Regions from separate parts of the Homo sapiens genome. Here region 2 is linked to region 1. The links come from fine-mapping of genetic effects on gene expression. A gene starts in region 1. The other region holds a variant in brackets. All regions are shown on one strand. Distances are between the middles of the regions. Region 1 holds the start of HGF (hepatocyte growth factor). Region 2 has its middle 80 kb from the start of HGF.

The links. PIP is the estimated chance that this variant, and not a neighbour inherited with it, causes the effect.
Region 2: its variant is fine-mapped to the expression of HGF in whole blood (TOPMed, PIP above 0.99).

What each region holds. Positions count from the first base shown.
Region 1 is chr7:81,766,415-81,774,761 of GRCh38, reverse strand. HGF (hepatocyte growth factor) reads left to right here and starts at 4,715. Exons shown (of 18, transcript NM_000601.6): 1 at 4,715-4,878. The coding sequence starts at 4,791.
Region 2 is chr7:81,845,976-81,854,322 of GRCh38, reverse strand. No RefSeq gene overlaps it. Among named protein-coding and RNA genes, the nearest start is that of HGF, 80 kb to the right of the region's middle. The variant A/G (reference allele first, on the strand shown) is at 4,493.

The sequences.
Region 1 (8,347 bases):
AGAAACAGAATGGCACCTGGCATGTGACAGGCATTTAATAAACAAAATGACAGTTCAAGAACACAAAACGCATTAGTAATCACAGGCGTTTAGTAAACAAAATGACCAGTTCAATAACACAAAACTCATTAGTAATCTACAGATCATAAGGTCATGTCAGCTTATTCCTCACGTACGTTCTTACAAGCATCACTTGTGGAGAAACCTGGGCTTAAGACAAAGAAAGATACCGTGTTAAAGCAGCAGCCTTTTAAAGAGCACAGTAATAGAGGCTTTTCCATTAAATCCATCTAGTATCCATGAGATACTAGAACCCTCAATCATAGGACAGATTTAAAATGGTATTATAGGGTAATGAGTATCCATCTAGTATTTAAGTATTTACATAAATTGCAGTACTTAAAGTAATCTCTTTACAAGTTATTTTATCAAAAACTTTTCAGACACAATTTTTTGGGGATTTATTCAAACTGTTTAACACTTAAGAAGTACTGGCTTACCTTGGAGATACTGCTCGTTTGGTTTCAGACCACTGTGATCAAGCAAAAATCGCAATAAAGCAAGTTACATGAATTTTTTTTTCGTTTCCCAGTGCATATAAAAGTTACACAGCAGACTATTAAGTGTGCAACAGCATTATGTTTAAAAATGTCCATACCTTAACTTAAAAATACTTTATTGTTAAAAAATGCTAACGATCATATAAGCCTTCAGCGAGTGATAATCTTTTTGCTGATGGAGGGTCTTGCTTGATGTTCAGAGCCTTGCTGTGGCTTTGGCTTAAGGCTTAAGGGAATATTGCAGCTGGTTTGATCTTCTATCTAGACTGCTCAAATTTTCTGCATATCAGCAATAAGGCTGCTCTGCTCTCTTATCATTTGTGTGTTCACTGGAGTAGCACTTCTAACTTGCTTCAAGAACTTTTCTTTTGCATTTGCAACTCGGATAACTGGTGCAAGAGGACTGGCTTTTGACCTAACTCATCTTTGGGCATGCCTTTCCCCAAAAGCTTAATTTATTTCTAGCTTTTGATTTCAAGGAAGAGACGCGCAACTCTTCCTTTCACTTGAGTACTTAGAGGTCATTGCAGGGCTATCAATTGGCCTAATTTCAATAATGTTGTGTTTTAGGAAATAGAGAAGCCTGAGGGGAGGGAGAGAGACGGGTGAACAGCTCGTCAGTGGAGTAGTCAGAATACACACATGAATGGATTAAGTTTGGGTTGTGGTTTGTGGTGCCCAAAACAATTATGGCAGTAACATCAAAGATCACTGATCACAGATCATCATGTAAAATAATAAGGAAATATTTGAAATATTGCAAGAATTACCAAAATGTGACACGGAGACACAAAGTGAGCACATGCTGTGGGAAAAACGGCACCAACAGACTTGCTCAATTCGAGGACACCACAAAACTTAATTTGTAAAAACACATTATCTGTGAAGTACAATAAAGTGAAGGGCAATAAAATGATGTATGCCTATGTAAGGCAATCAGTAGATGATGGGAAAAAAACATTGCATGATTTAGAAAAAACAAAGAGAATATGTTATCAAAATGACTAAACTAATAGCATAATTAGAATTTCATTTGAGTATTTCTTTATAGTTTTGAGAGATTTAAAATTATGTATTATTTTATAAATTATTATGGAGGATCTCCTATATACCCAGTCTCAGACTTATTTTGGTGATTATACTCTGGAACATGTGATTCTTCTCCTCGTGGGGTTAAAAAAATTTATACCATCCTATGGGGTATGACTAATCTGAATCTCACACTTGAATATTACTTTGGGATCTTAGGCAAGTTATTTAAGAATAAAAATAACTTACTATGTTTCCTCAACTATAAAATGAGAATTTTAATAATCTTAAACTTACTGTAAGGATGAAATAATTTTCAATAGTATGTAATATGATGCTTAGCATACATTAAGATCTCAGTGTATATTAGCAACAATTTCAGTAAAGAAAGACCAAATAATTTTTGTCAAGAAATATGAATATATAAATTATATAGGTTTTAAGTTGTATTTACCATATTTAATGTGACAGTAAAAAAAGTCACGAAAATGTGTGACCTAATAAGTTTATTCAGTTTTCTAATGTCCTGAACCCCTTATCTCAGATGGATTTTGCTCCAAACTTATAACAATAATTTACAACCCTGACTCTAGTTTTTTTTTCTGAGAGAAAAAAATAAATAGAAACACTGTTCTTTTTCTTTCCTTACCTACAGGAATTTACTTACAGAAAAATCTAACTTCTTTTAAAAACAGCCTTAATCCCTTGTTGGGCCAAGGGAAAACTTTTCCATTGTTCTCTGAAGGTTTGCTAAAAAAAAAATTACTGTCAAGAGGCAGATCAATAGAAGAAAAGGCATACACATTTATTTGATCATAATTTTACACAACCCGAGAGCCTTTAGAACAAAGACCCAAAGTTACAAAAGAAATTGTCCATTTTTATGCTTAGGTTCAACAAAGTGTGGGCAGGTGTGGAGAAATACAACTGGACAAAAGGAATATGATCTCATGCTAACAGACTGAGTGGGGACGCCTGGCAAGGTGAGATTCTTCCTGGTATCTCTGTGCAGTACTCATTCCTTCTGGGTATGGGGCAGGACCTTCTTTGGAATGGGGTCTTATGAGCTACGATCAAACAAGGTAGGTCAGATAATGTCTTTATGGCCAGATTTCACACAGAAAGTTGAGGTGTTAGAGTGATATGCTTAGGTTTTATGGCTGGTTTGGGAAAAAGGGTTCTGGTTTCTAGGAGCCACCTTGGGAAAGAGGGATTCTAGTTTCTATGCCTCGCCTTGGGGGAGAATGAAGGGCCGGAGACTGGAGAGCAGGAGAAGGTCAGAGAGAGCTGATTCTGAGGTCTTCATTTGGGGTATCATTTTTCTGAGCCCCTACACCCTAATAAAGCACAAGAGATGCAGTGGAGCAATTCAGGGTCACGGTCAGGCTATGCATTGAACTGAGATTTCCCAAAAAGTCTACTGAACAGTAAAAAGAAAGTAAAATGGATCCTGGGGACACCAGACAGAGGCTGACAAATGATTTTTAAGTAAGGAGAAAATGATAAAAGAGAAGGATTAGCAATAGAAACGGGTCATATAAAATAGATCCCTCAAAAGGAATTCTCTTAATCCCTAGCTTCTCTAGATATCCCACAACCTCAGGGACTTATCAGGCAGGTTGTTTTTCCCTGAAAGTGGGGGTAAGGGAGCTGGAGGACAAATGAAGGTGGTATGTGGAGGGAAGGCTGTTCTGTGGATGAGTTTAATTCAGCCCCACAATCACTTCTGTACAGCTACCCACCGCTCTAGTCATTCCCACATTTGGCCTGCTTTCTTTTCCTCTGTGGACAGGGGCACTGTTCTCTACTAATATCCATCTCAGAGAGATACAGGGGCAAGTATCCCTCAGCATCCATTAGAAATAAAGCAGGCTCTTGCTTAAAGTTACCAGAGCATCCACCTCTGGGTGCAAAGACAAATTCTCTGAATCAAGTGAGGGGTCTGGGCAATGATCTCACAAGGATTTGATACCTAGGAGTCCCCCCATGCCCATACAAGCTCCTCATCTTTCCACTTACACTTTGGGAAGCTGGCTGTCGTGTACAGGCAGATGAAGCTGGAAAAGAGAGGCATATTCAGTACTCACGAATTCAAACAGCTTGAGGGATTTCCGGTGAAAGTCAGTCCTAACCAGTGTATACGTACATACACACCAACATGTGTGAATGTGTTGTGTGCACGTGTGTGCCTGTACAAGTCCACATGGCATATTTACCTGTCAGGGACAGGCTATGGACAATGACTGTTTCTTGGACTTTCTCTTAAAAAGTCAGATCAGACAAGTTTATTTTGTATACTTTGGGTAAATGTGTGGTATTTCGTGAGTTTGGCAGTTTGTGAAAAAAAAAAAAAAAAAAAAAAAAAAAAAAAGCTGCCTGCTCTGAGCCCATGGGGCAGGGGCAATTTTTTCATCTGACAATCTGCGTGCTTTTGTTTTGCTTGCTTATTTTGGCCCCACAATACCACACCCTTTTCTTAACTAACCTCTTTCTACCTGGGCTGGACGTGCCTGGGCTCTCCTCCCTGGCCCCGCTCCCACCTCTCCCAGGTCTCTAAACCCCTAGAGAACCTGTGTCAGTGTTTTGAATCCCTCAGTTGCTCTAGCAGGAAAACTAGACAGATTAGGAGCTGGGGCACATTTGGCTGAAAGACAGCTCTTCGCTTTCTTCTTATGCTGCTTCCCCTTCCTCTTTTCCCAAATAGATATATAAACACATGTATTTTCCTGTTTAAATTGAGCGAATTGGTCCCCTGCCTGTGCCTTGATTTAGCCATTGGGCTCAGCCTTGCTCCTCCCTTCCTTACTCGGATAGGAGCCACTGGGATCTGGAGCTCCAGCTTCCAAATTGAAGCTGGCCTCAGGCCAGGTGACCTTTTCTTTGTAAGTTTCTTTCCTAAGCGTGGGGTTGGGGGGAGGCGGGGAATGGGGGGGGTTGCAGGGATCTGTTTGGTGCTGTTGAAGGGGGGGCGAGTGAGGAAAGGAGGGGGCTGGAAGAGAGTAAAGGGCTGTTGTTAAACAGTTTCTTACCGTAAGAGGGAGTTCAGACCTAGATCTTTCCAGTTAATCACACAACAAACTTAGCTCATCGCAATAAAAAGCAGCTCAGAGCCGACTGGCTCTTTTAGGCACTGACTCCGAACAGGATTCTTTCACCCAGGCATCTCCTCCAGAGGGATCCGCCAGCCCGTCCAGCAGCACCATGTGGGTGACCAAACTCCTGCCAGCCCTGCTGCTGCAGCATGTCCTCCTGCATCTCCTCCTGCTCCCCATCGCCATCCCCTATGCAGGTTAGTTCCCTTCTTCTTCTTCATTATTAGTATTAGTATTTAACTCTCCTGCTAACCTTCCCTATTCCTTTTAACACCCTCTTTTTACCCTATTCCCAGCATCCTTTCTGAACTCAGTATGTAGTATAGGTTTCTAAAAGCTCTCATTATGCTTTTTTTGACATTCTTTTTTGTTGTTGTTTGAATAGCATTTAAAATGATAATTAACTTTCCCTCAACTCCCCTCCACCTCCAACCCAAGCCCCGTCCCACTTAGCCTAATAGTTGTGGATTATGAGATAGGGAGGAAGTGCTAATACTGGCTGAACTTGGCTGCTTTGGACAAGTTTAAAGCTAAAGAGAGGGTCTGGTCTGAAGAGGCAAGAGTGATGGTCAGTCCGGCAGGAAGTCATCCTTTTCCAGAGAACAATTTTTCATGATAATGCACTACTCCACATCACCTAGTCAACATTTGGAGCCAAATTACGACTTTGTACAGGTTTTCATTTTGAGGAGGCAGAATAAACTCTGAGTATTTGCATATCATAAAAATGAAAGAGAAAGCCTCTTTTTAAAGATCTTATTCTTTCTGGGTACGGATGCCTGCCCTTTGAAACTGCAGTGCACGGAGACTTTGATTAAAGCTGCAGAACTGCCCATCTCTGTCTCCCACTTTCTCCCTTGGATTTGCCGTTTGGGGAGGAGTTGCTTGAAAGTTCATATTGCTTGGAGATTTAGAGATCTCGTTTGCTGCTCTGGGAAGTTTCTCTTGTTATCAGGGCAAGAGGAAACATCTGTATTTTGTTGTATCATTGTAGAGGCTGAGGTGCCAACGGGAGAAGGCAGTGAATATCAAGGGTAGGCGCAGGGGAATAAAAGAGTGGGAACAAATGCCCAGATGGAGACATGGCCTTTTTACAATATAAAAAAGAGAACTGGCTGTATCTTTTGAGATGGTAAATATGACATTTATCAGACCTTTGATCTAGTTTTTGATATGGTACAAGGGTTAAAAAACTCAAGAATTTTCTAAATGCAAAGGAAAATCATTCAACCCACCTGGTTTTCTTTTATTTTGTGAAGTGGCCCGTTTGGAAAATGACACTGTTTGGAAAGGGTCACTCTGAAAGCATTTAGGTAAGATTTCTGAAGAAGTGAAAAAGCAGTGAGTTCAAATCAAGCAGGTTATCATGCTTGACATGTGTCATGTTAAAATCGCTTCACAGGGTCGGGTGCGGTGGCTCACGCCTGTAATCCCAGCACTTTGGGAGGCCGAGGCGGGCAGATCACGAGGTCAGGAGATTGAGACCATCCTAGCTAACAAGGTGAAACCCTGTCTCTACTAAAAATACAAAAAATTAGCCAGGCGTGGTGGCAGGCACCTGTAGTCCCACCTACTTGGGAGGCTGAGGCAGGAGACTCTCTTGAACCTGGGAGGTGGGGGTTGCAGTGAGCCGAGATTGTGTCACCGCACTTCAGCCTGGGGAACGGAGCAAGACTCCATCTCAAGAAGAAGAAGAAAAAAATGCTTCACAGATGACTGCTGGTTTAGGGGATTTTGAGCTTAAATTGAAATAATGGCTAATATTTTGAGGGTTTTCATTTTTAAAGATTAAAATGTCACTGTTCTTAAGTAGAATCTGGTTACCTGAATTCATCTGTGCTAACGCAAGGGGAACGCAGTGTGGAAAACCCAAACAGTAGATCAACCGTAGGCAGTGTCTATTTGTTTTCGGCATGCATTATGAACTTTTGGCAGGAGACATACATTTGTAATTATATTTCACTTTGCCTAATGTAGAAATGACTGTGTTTCCTGAGTACAGGCAGAATGCAGCCCAAGAGTGCTGGCAGGCAAGGAGAGTCCAGTTGGGAATTACAAATATGCTGTGAATAATTCCTGAAGTGGATAATTCTAAAATTGTCATCAAAGGAGGGTGCGCCTTTGTTTAGATGGCCAGTTTGATAGTTTTTTTTAATAACCTTTAAAATAAAAAATATGGGTAGCCTCTTAGAACACACAAAGTTTGTTCTTTTTTAAATGACATTTAATATTGACTATTTAGAGGTTTCTTTTGTTGTTACTAGCTTTGATTATAATTATTTATTCTATGAATTTATATTTGTATGTATTGTAAAATAACACATTGTTAGGAAAGAAGTATATACTGTAAGTTGACAACCAGTTATCAACAGAATACACTATGGAGATACTTTTTTAAAAGCTTAAGAAATATTCAATATAATGGGCCCCCGCCATCTTTGTAGGAGTTAGCCTATATAGAATTACCCTCTATTCACTCCCACCTACATGGGAAACAAATATCCAATCCTCTGTAATAAAAGAAGCATTAAATGAGCACCTAATATTCAAGAGTATGTGGGGGATGTAAAGATGAACAAATAAGAAAGGAACTTAAATTTGTTGAGCAACTGATATGAACCAAGTAGTAAAGTACATCTCACTTAATTCTAATAAGATTGGCACTATTGGACTCATTTAGCCGGTTCAAAGACCTCAGTTATCTTATTTCTTTGTGAGTTAAGGGACAGAGCTGAGATTTCTACCCAAATGTATGTGAATGAACTATGTGGTGTTTTTTTTTTTTCTTTTTTCATTTATATTGAAGCGAGCAGCAGTGAAATCAACTGAAATTTACTTAAAAAAAATCATTTGGCCAAGTGATATATTTTCAAAAAACCCTGTTAGAAATACTTTGTACTATGGTTGAGAGTTCATTTTCAGCATAGAGAATCAAACCAGGTGAAGGGGTTATATGGTACTGAAGTCCATATGAAAAGATGGATGGTAGAATAGTCAGTATCTTAGCACAGGATCACAAGTGGCCCAAGGTACAGAGGTTCGTAAGTATAAGGAATGTCCCAGGAAGGACCCCACACAGCAACTGAAGGCAAGCATTTGAGGCAGAAGTATTGGGCATGTGATGGGGAATATTGTCTGTGAGTGGAAAAGTAAGATGAGGTAGAATGGATAGGATTGAAGGTCATGCTCAACCATGTGGTCTTTAAAATGAATGTCATGCGAGCAGCTGAAAGTTTTTTTGTTGAAAATGTACTTGATTGAAGTTGTTCTTCAGTGTGGTTGCTTCAGTTCCTGTGTGGAAGGAAAGTTGTAGGCAGAAACAGACAGTGAAGGTGGAGGCCAGGATGAGGCTTCTAGAAGAATGAAACCTTAAATAAGAACTGGAAAGGAGAAGGAAGAAAATACCTAGGGAGGCCCCTCAAATCACACTGAACATCACTTCATTTTGTAAATCCCCTTGGAAGAGATGATGCTGCAGCTTCTCAAATATCAGCATTTGATTTACATCTGACACAGTCTCTGTCTTCTTGGTATCTTTATTTGTGATATTGTTGCCTTCTCTAAAGAAAGGGAGATGACTGCCGATTTGCAAAAATCCATGTCTTAGATAATAACAACGAAAATTTAGACTTCTATTTGAAATTCTTGGCTTTGGAGAGTTTACAA
Region 2 (8,347 bases), 80 kb before region 1:
TTAGGTTAAATAAAGTTCAATGTTATTCATATGTTTCCCCTTTGATTTCCCAAAATCCCATCTGTTACTAAGAAAGCTTTTCCACAAGGGTAGATTTGCAAAAGTTTGGAATTGTATTTGCTTTTATAATAGTCATGGTAAATTCTTCATATGGTCACCGCTAGCATATTTTTGTTACTCTGATATAACTTTATACTGAAATTGCCTTATTCCTTGCCATCTTACCAATGTATCAATATGCTTCACCCAGCTATACAGAGTGTCCTAAATCTGCTAGGCCATCATATCTTTTAGCTACAAAAAAGTATTGTTGTCACTCATATTTACAAAAAATGTACTTCATTCATATAAAACATACTCGATTTCCATAAAAATCCCCTTTAATTGTGTGTGGGTGGGTGGGTGGGGGGTAATCACCTATTTGCTACTAGGTGGTAGCTACAGAAGCAACCATTTATTTTCCTTCCTGTGAACTTTGTGTATTTTGGCAGTCATTGAAGCCATGGGCATACAGGTTAGGCAGCTGAGAATCAGATTTTCAAAGACTAGCAAAAATAATTAATGCAGAGAAAAAATGTATTTTATTTGTTTACACTTATTAGTTATTTTAATTATGAATTTGATATAGTTTGGCTCTGTCTCCCCACCCAAATCTCATCTTGAATTGTAATCCCCATGTGTCAAGGGAGGGACCTGGTGGGAGATGATTGGATCATGGGAGTGGTCTTCTCCCTTGCTGTTCTTGTATAGAGTTCTCAGGAGATCTGGTTGTTTGATAAGTGTGGGGTTCTTCTCCCTTCGTGTGCACTCTCCTCTCTCTTTATCTTTCTCTCTCTCCCTGTCTCTTTCCTGCCACCATGATGTAAGAGGTGCCTTGCTTCTCCTTCACCTTCCACCATGACTCTAGTTTCCTGAGGCTTCTGCAGCCATCTGCAGGTGTGAGTCAATTCAACCTCCTTTCTTTTACAAATTACCCAGTCTTGGGTAGTATCTTTATAGCAGTGTGAAATGAACTAATATAGCATTTTTTCAAATATATGTAAAAGTGGAGTGAATAGTAATATAAAACACGTATATATACTCTAATTTCAACAGTTTGTCTAATTTTGTTCATCTATTGCTTCCCATCCAGAGTATATTTGTGGAAATCCAAGACATTAAAGTATTTCATCTGTACATACTTTGATCTCTCTCTAAAAGACAAGTACTCTTTAAGCAAAAACATAACTATAATATGATTATGACAACTAAAATGAGTGCAGTAATTTCTTCATATGATTAATTTTCAAATAATTACATTTTTACTTCTTAGAATGTTCTTACCTAAGTTTAGATGAAGGGGCTGCTATAGCTGCTGAAGAAAAGTTGCATTAACAATAATAATAGCAGTTAATAATAAACTAATACATGTTGAGACAGGCACTCTGACTCAGGTCCTGTGCTAATTGCTGTACTTGGGTCAATATTTTAGTCTTTTGAAAAACACTTCATAGTAGGCATTATTATTATCTCTGTATTTTTTAGATTGAGACCTACATGAAACAAATTTCTGAAGTCATGGATCTAATGGCAAAACTAAGTCAATTACAAGCATCTCATTCTATTATCTGCACTCCTTCTTACCACCTCTGTATAATTTAGTATATTTTAGGGTAGAAGAATTTACAGAGTGGAATACTACCCAAATAAATATACCACCTTTTCTGTAATTTCATATGTATCTGAATATAGAAAATTATTTTATTTCTTTTTTTTGAGAGTAAATGTACATAGTTTTACCTACGAATGTAGGAACGCATATTCACTTACTAAATTTAGTAGAAACTTCCATTTCATTCTCTGCAAAATAGTCTATGCACACTGTAACACATAAATGTGAAGATAAATGTATTTTTTCTATCTAGCTAAAATATTTTAAAGAGCGAGAAATAGTAGAGAATAAATTTCAAAAATACATTTCAATATATAATTCTACGTATTAAATATGAAAATGGTTCCATATTTGAGGTTGACTTCTAAATGAATACAAAATAAAAAGCTTATCAGTTTTAGGACAACAAAACTATAGGAACTACAAACAAAGCGGGGGATGCACTAAAATTAGTGGCTGGCATACATGGAACATGTGTTGGCCGAAACAAAGGAAGCTCATTTAAGAATGTATCAGATTGAACTAAGCTGTGACAGAAACTTGTTTGAAGGTTTGTATGTGGCTGTGAGTATTCCAGGTATGTTAACTCCATCTGTTTTTTTAATATTTTCATTGGGTGCCTCCCATTGTTCTGAAACATCAAAGTAAATATTAACTTAATCACCTTTCTGAAATGATTCCTACGTAAGAATTTCTTATTTCAGTTATTATAGTTATTGACTATGTGAAAGACATTCTGCCAGTTTTTGCAGAGGATATAAGGATGAGTAAAGCTCTGTATCCTCTAATGGGGAGCCTGAAAAAAATACTAGTAGGGAGAATATGTGCGATATGTGATATACTTCTAAAGTTCTGAGTGTGTGAAAAAGATGGGAAACCATAGCAACAAGTTGAGGACAAAGCAGGATAGATTTGTGGACAGGATTTTTTTAATTAAATTTTTTGAAGCACTAAACCTTGAAGGCACTTTAAGTTTCTTTCTGTATGTTATCCTTCATTTAAAATGTCATTGCTACAGGTTCTACATTGGGACCATTTCTTTCTTTTTTCACAGTCAGCATAATAAATTAGAACCACAACTCATTTCTAAATTTTCAATTTATCTTTGTTAAATCTAACAAAGCTGCCAGATTGCTCTTCCTAAAGACCAGTATTATTGTGTTACTAGGATTAGCATTTATGGGAAGCACAGCTGACAGGATGATAATTCTTTAAAAAGCATCAAAGCATCAAGTGACTTAAGATATCACTATTGTCTGTGCCTGTGGTTCTTTAACTTTAGTATTCATCAGAATCACCTGGAGGGCTTGCTAAAAGATACACTGCTGGGGAATATCCCCAGATTTTTTAAATTCAGGAATTCTGAGGAGGAGCCTGTGACTTTGCATTTCTAAGAATTTCGCAAATGCTGCTGAGACTGCTGGTCTCAGGACTTTGAGAACCACTGTTCTATATTACTTTTATTAGCATGGTGATTAGATAGAGCACAGGACTCGTGAAAGATCTAGATCCTTTTCCAGATGTTTCCTTTGCTAGAACTATGAGCTTATGGAAGTTGGGTGGTCTCCCAAGGTTTAATTTTATCATCTTATATATTAGATCCAGTTGTGGGCTAAAGCTGACTTGAAATGTCTTTTGAAAACCAGGTCTGCAAATCTATTCTAAACACTGGGTTCAGTGACATCACTGAAGCTGATATTGGTCATGGTGGGAGTATTTAGCCCCACGAAAATGGAAAATCATTAAAAATCAGTTTTTATTTCTCTTTTTCCCCCAGAATAATTTTATTCTTCAATATCCCCCATTATCTATAATTACATTCCCTTCCTCAGGTATATTGTCTCATGTATGCACTTTAAACTGTACTGATGACTCCCAGTTAATAATAAACTTACATATGTACAAAACAAATAAATAGATATTTTATTTGCACATCAACGAAATCATGTTTTATTTCTGTTTCTGAACCAAAGGTGATTTTGTCCCCAGGGAACATTTGGTGATATATAGAGACATTTTTAGTTGTAACCAAAAATGGAGATGGTGGATAGTTTTACTGGCATTTAGTGGGTAGAGGTTAGGGATGATTCTAATCACCCTGCAATGCACAGGACAACCCCCACAGCAAAGACGTATCCTGCCCTAAATGTCAAGAGAGCCAATGTTGAGAAACAGCTCTATGTAGTATTCTGTAACTATTTTTTTTTTTACAATATACATCTATACACACAGATAGATCCATTTCATTTTTAAGCAACTTCATAGTATTTGCTTTTACCATACGAATTTTGCATTATGTATTTTTATTTTATATTATGAACTTTTTTATCTGATGAATGACTGTAAATCTGATGTTGATTCATTGGTTTCTTTTTAAAATTTATTTATATTTTAAAGAAATGAAGTCAATATTTCAAAGAGACATCTACACTCCCATGTTTATTGCAACACAATTCACAACAGGCAAGTTATGGAATCAGTGTGTGTCCATCATTGGATGAATGGAAAAAGAAAATGTGGTACACATACACAATGGAATACTATTCATCCATAACAAAGAATGAAATTCTATCATTTGTGGCAACATGGATAAACCTGAGGAACAGTATGTTAAGTGAAATAAACCAGGCACAAAAAGACAAATATGGCATGATTTACACATATGTGGAATCTAAAAAAGTTGATCTCATAGAAGCAGAGAGTACAATAATTGTTGCCAGAGTTGGGGGAGGTTAGGGGTGCAGGCAAGATAGGGAGATATTAGTCAATGGGTACAAAGTTATAGTTAGATAGAAGGAATAGGTTCTGGTGTTCTATTGCACAGTATGTGACTAGGATTAT[A/G]TAATACTGTACATTGCATTACATAATTCAAAAGAGCTAGAAGAGAGGATTTTGAAAGTTCTCAGCACAAAAAATAGATAAATATATGAGGTGATGGATATGCTAAACATCCTGATTTGATTTTTACACAATGTATGCATGTATAAAAACATCGCATTCTACCCCATAAATATGTACAATTATGGATCAAAAACACCATTTAAAATTATTTATTTTTAAATTAACAAATAAGATATTTTTGTGGTGTGCAAAATGATGAGATATTCATATATTTGTAAAATGACTACATTGAGCTAATTAATTGATTTGGATAGGCTTTGTGTCCCCACCCAAATCTCATTTTGAATTATAATCCCCAATCTCCACATGTTAAGGGAGAGACCAGGTGGAAGTATTTAGATCATGGAGGTGGTTCCCCCATGCTGTTCTTGTGATAGTGAATGAGTTCTCACAAAATCTGATGGTTTTTTAAGGGGCTCTTCCCCCTTAAGTTGGCACTTCTTCTTCCTGCTGCCTTGTGAAGAAGGTACCTTGCTTCTCCTTCATCTTCTGCCATGATTGTAGGTTTCCTGAGGCCACACCAGCCATGCTGAACTGTGAGTCAATTAAACTTTTTTCCCTTATAAATTACCCAGTCTTGGGCAGTTCTTGATAGCCTTACGAAACAGATTAATACATTAACATAAGTGTTACCTCACATACTTATTTTTTTTTGTGGTGAGAATACCTAAAATCCACTTGCAGTGATTTTCAAAATATATAGTATTTTGTCATTAACTATAGTCAGTTCTCTTGAATAGATTCCATTTTCCTTTTATTACATTTTGAAGAACCAATTATTACATAATTACCAGAACACCAGTGACTTCATCCATATTAATTTTCACATAATCTTGGACACCATCACAATTTGAAACCTCTCACACCCTTTTGAATAATCTATTTTTCTCAGTAGCAGATTGGTCTTTCTTAGTTTATCTTTATTGTAAAAACTCATACAAATCTAAAATTTGAGAAGTCAGTTGATTGTGAGCAAAGACATTATTGACAAAGTTTTGGTTCCAACTGATTCCAACTGCATAGAAACTTCTATAACATAATGCACAAATGTGAGGAAATAAAAGGGGGAGAGTATGAAGTAAAGATAGACCATGCTTTCCTGGTTTCCTTCTGGTCAAAATGCTGGATATTTTTTAAAGATCAGGACCTAGGTTCTCTTCTCTTCAAACTCTGTACTTTCTTGAAAGAAAACTTCATCCAATGGCATTCATTAACCTGCTTTATTTGAAAATGACTCCGAAAATTGTATTTCCTAATTAAAAATTCTGTACTGAGCCCCAAACCCATAAAACCTACAGCTTGCTTGATGTTTCCATTTGGATAATAAAAAGTAACTCTAACTTACTATGTACAAAAATATTTCTCATCTTCTCCTTAAATGTTGTCCTCTTCTTTAAGTTTTGCGTCTCCATTACATTGCATATTTAAAACACCCTTTAAAATTCTTCCACCTCTCTCCATTTGATCTGCTAGCTCCATAAGCCAAGCTTCTATCTTCTCTTACTTGGATAGTTTGCAAATTAGCCTCCCTTGTCCATTCTTGTCTCCTCCCAATACAATCTCTTCAATAGATTGTTATTATAAATTCAAGTTTGATAATACCTCACCTCTTCTTAAAATCTGTTATTGACTTCTTCTGCTTTTAGGATAATAATTAAGAGACTTAATGTGTTCCACCAACTAACATTACATGGCCAACAAGCATGAAACGTCTCTTATCCATGTATTCAGGCATGTATCAGACTAACCCTCCCCTTGATCTCTATGTGACAACCTTACTGACTTTCTTACAACGAATAGTCCCTGAAGGCTCAGGGCCCTTGCACATGCAGTGTCCTCTGTCTTACAGCGCTTTACTCTCTCATCTTTGCTAGTAATTAGATTCTCAATTCAAATATCACTTCACTGGGAAACCCATGCCTCTCAAGGAATATAGAAAAACTCCTTCCCTATGATGTATTTTTGTTTGATGGCTTTGTCAGAATTACAATTTTATAGGCATTTCTGTTTTATTTAATTCATGTCTATTTCTTCTCATTAGACTATAAGCTCCACAATATCTGCTTATGTTCAATATTTATAGCATCAATACTTAGAGTGTGTGACACTCAGTAAGAACTCAATACATATTACCAATTATTGAATAAATGTGTTAAAATGTGGAATAATTGGAATATATGTATTTCTTCTCTCTCTCTCTCTCTCTCTCTCTCTCTCTCTCTCATATTTTCCTCCCCCTAATAGATCAGCAAAAGATTTTCATTTCCCACAGTGCACAAGTCATTCTAAGAGTCTACCTACGGGATGGTACCATAATGATGCTTAATGCTGGCCGCATATTAGAATTATTTGGGGAGCTTTTAATAAACACCCAAAGCTAGGCCCATCACAGAACAGTTAAATCAGCATTTCTCAAGGTGAGGCTCAGGCAACATTTTTTTAAAAGCTCCCTAGGTGATGCTAATGTGGAGCTAGAATTGTGAAACACGCTCTCTAATGGATGAAATCTGAATACCCGTCTGTTCATGAACCATACAAACCATTACTGTTGGCCTGGGAAATGTCTAATTCTAATTAAATAATTCTTAAATCATTCATTCATATATTCATTCAAAACATATAATAGTTTTAAATTATATATTATTACATCTTATATTTGTTACATAAATATTACATATTATGTATTGTTACGAGAAGCAAAAGTTTGTACTAGGAATTGTGAAGGATATAAAATGTAGCCAGATACTTCCAAGATTCTACTATGAACTTTCTTCCTCACTTAGCTGATATCATGGATTTAATAAGAATTTAATCCCTAGCAGATCTCTTTTAATCTCTTTGCAGATCCTCTCACTGTACCTACTACTTGAACATGCAGTAGTCTTTCCCTCTGATTGTGCAAATGTAATAACGCAGGCATGGCTTATGCAAGAAAATTCATGAACCTCTTCTATAAAATGAGTACGTCTACTCACAGACATTTTCCCCTTACTCTTAAAACTGAAAGGGAGGCTTTCTGATTGCTATAACATCTAGAGGACAGTGGTTAGAGATACTGTTGCAAAAAGAGAAGCTGCAGAACTGTTGGGGTGGGCAGGAAGAGTAGAAGTATTTTAAAAGAGACATGGTGAAATCAGGAAGCTTTTTCCTCAAAGGGCAGTTGCTGCAGGAGCAACTGAGTCATCCTCCCAGTATTGTCTGTCCTAGATGCAGTGAACAGGAAGTGAAAGTTCAGTGTTGCTTACTGTCAATTACCATCCACATAAACAGACACAGGAAGATCAAGTCATGTTACTTTAGCCTTAGTGCCCTTGAATGTTTTGATAAATTTGTTAGCTATTTACTCAACATAAATATTCAACTTACGTACCCCATGGCCAAAATTTATAATTTTCCTTTTGAATTCTTTTTAAAAAGCATTCTGTGTTGCCACACGTTTATTTATTTTATTTATCTTTTTGTATTCACCAACATCCAAGCCCCTCGCCTCGCCTCACTTTCTGCTGATGGGAGGGGAAAGTCTCATCATCCAGACCCCTCATAAAGGTATACTTGGTGCCAGGGAGTAATCCCCTTGGGTCACTAATGGATATTCACACATCTGAGAATGCTGTTAAGAAGCTTCTGAAGTGGAATGCGATTCCAGCTGTAGCAATTACATACTGCTCATATTTCCTAGTTTAGACTCTGGGGAGTTCAACAACTGCCTATTAGCAAGCTGACGATGGAAAGAAGCGCTGTAAATCTCACAAGCAATGATAAAGCCGATGCTCCTGGAAGAAGGAGGAAAGACTG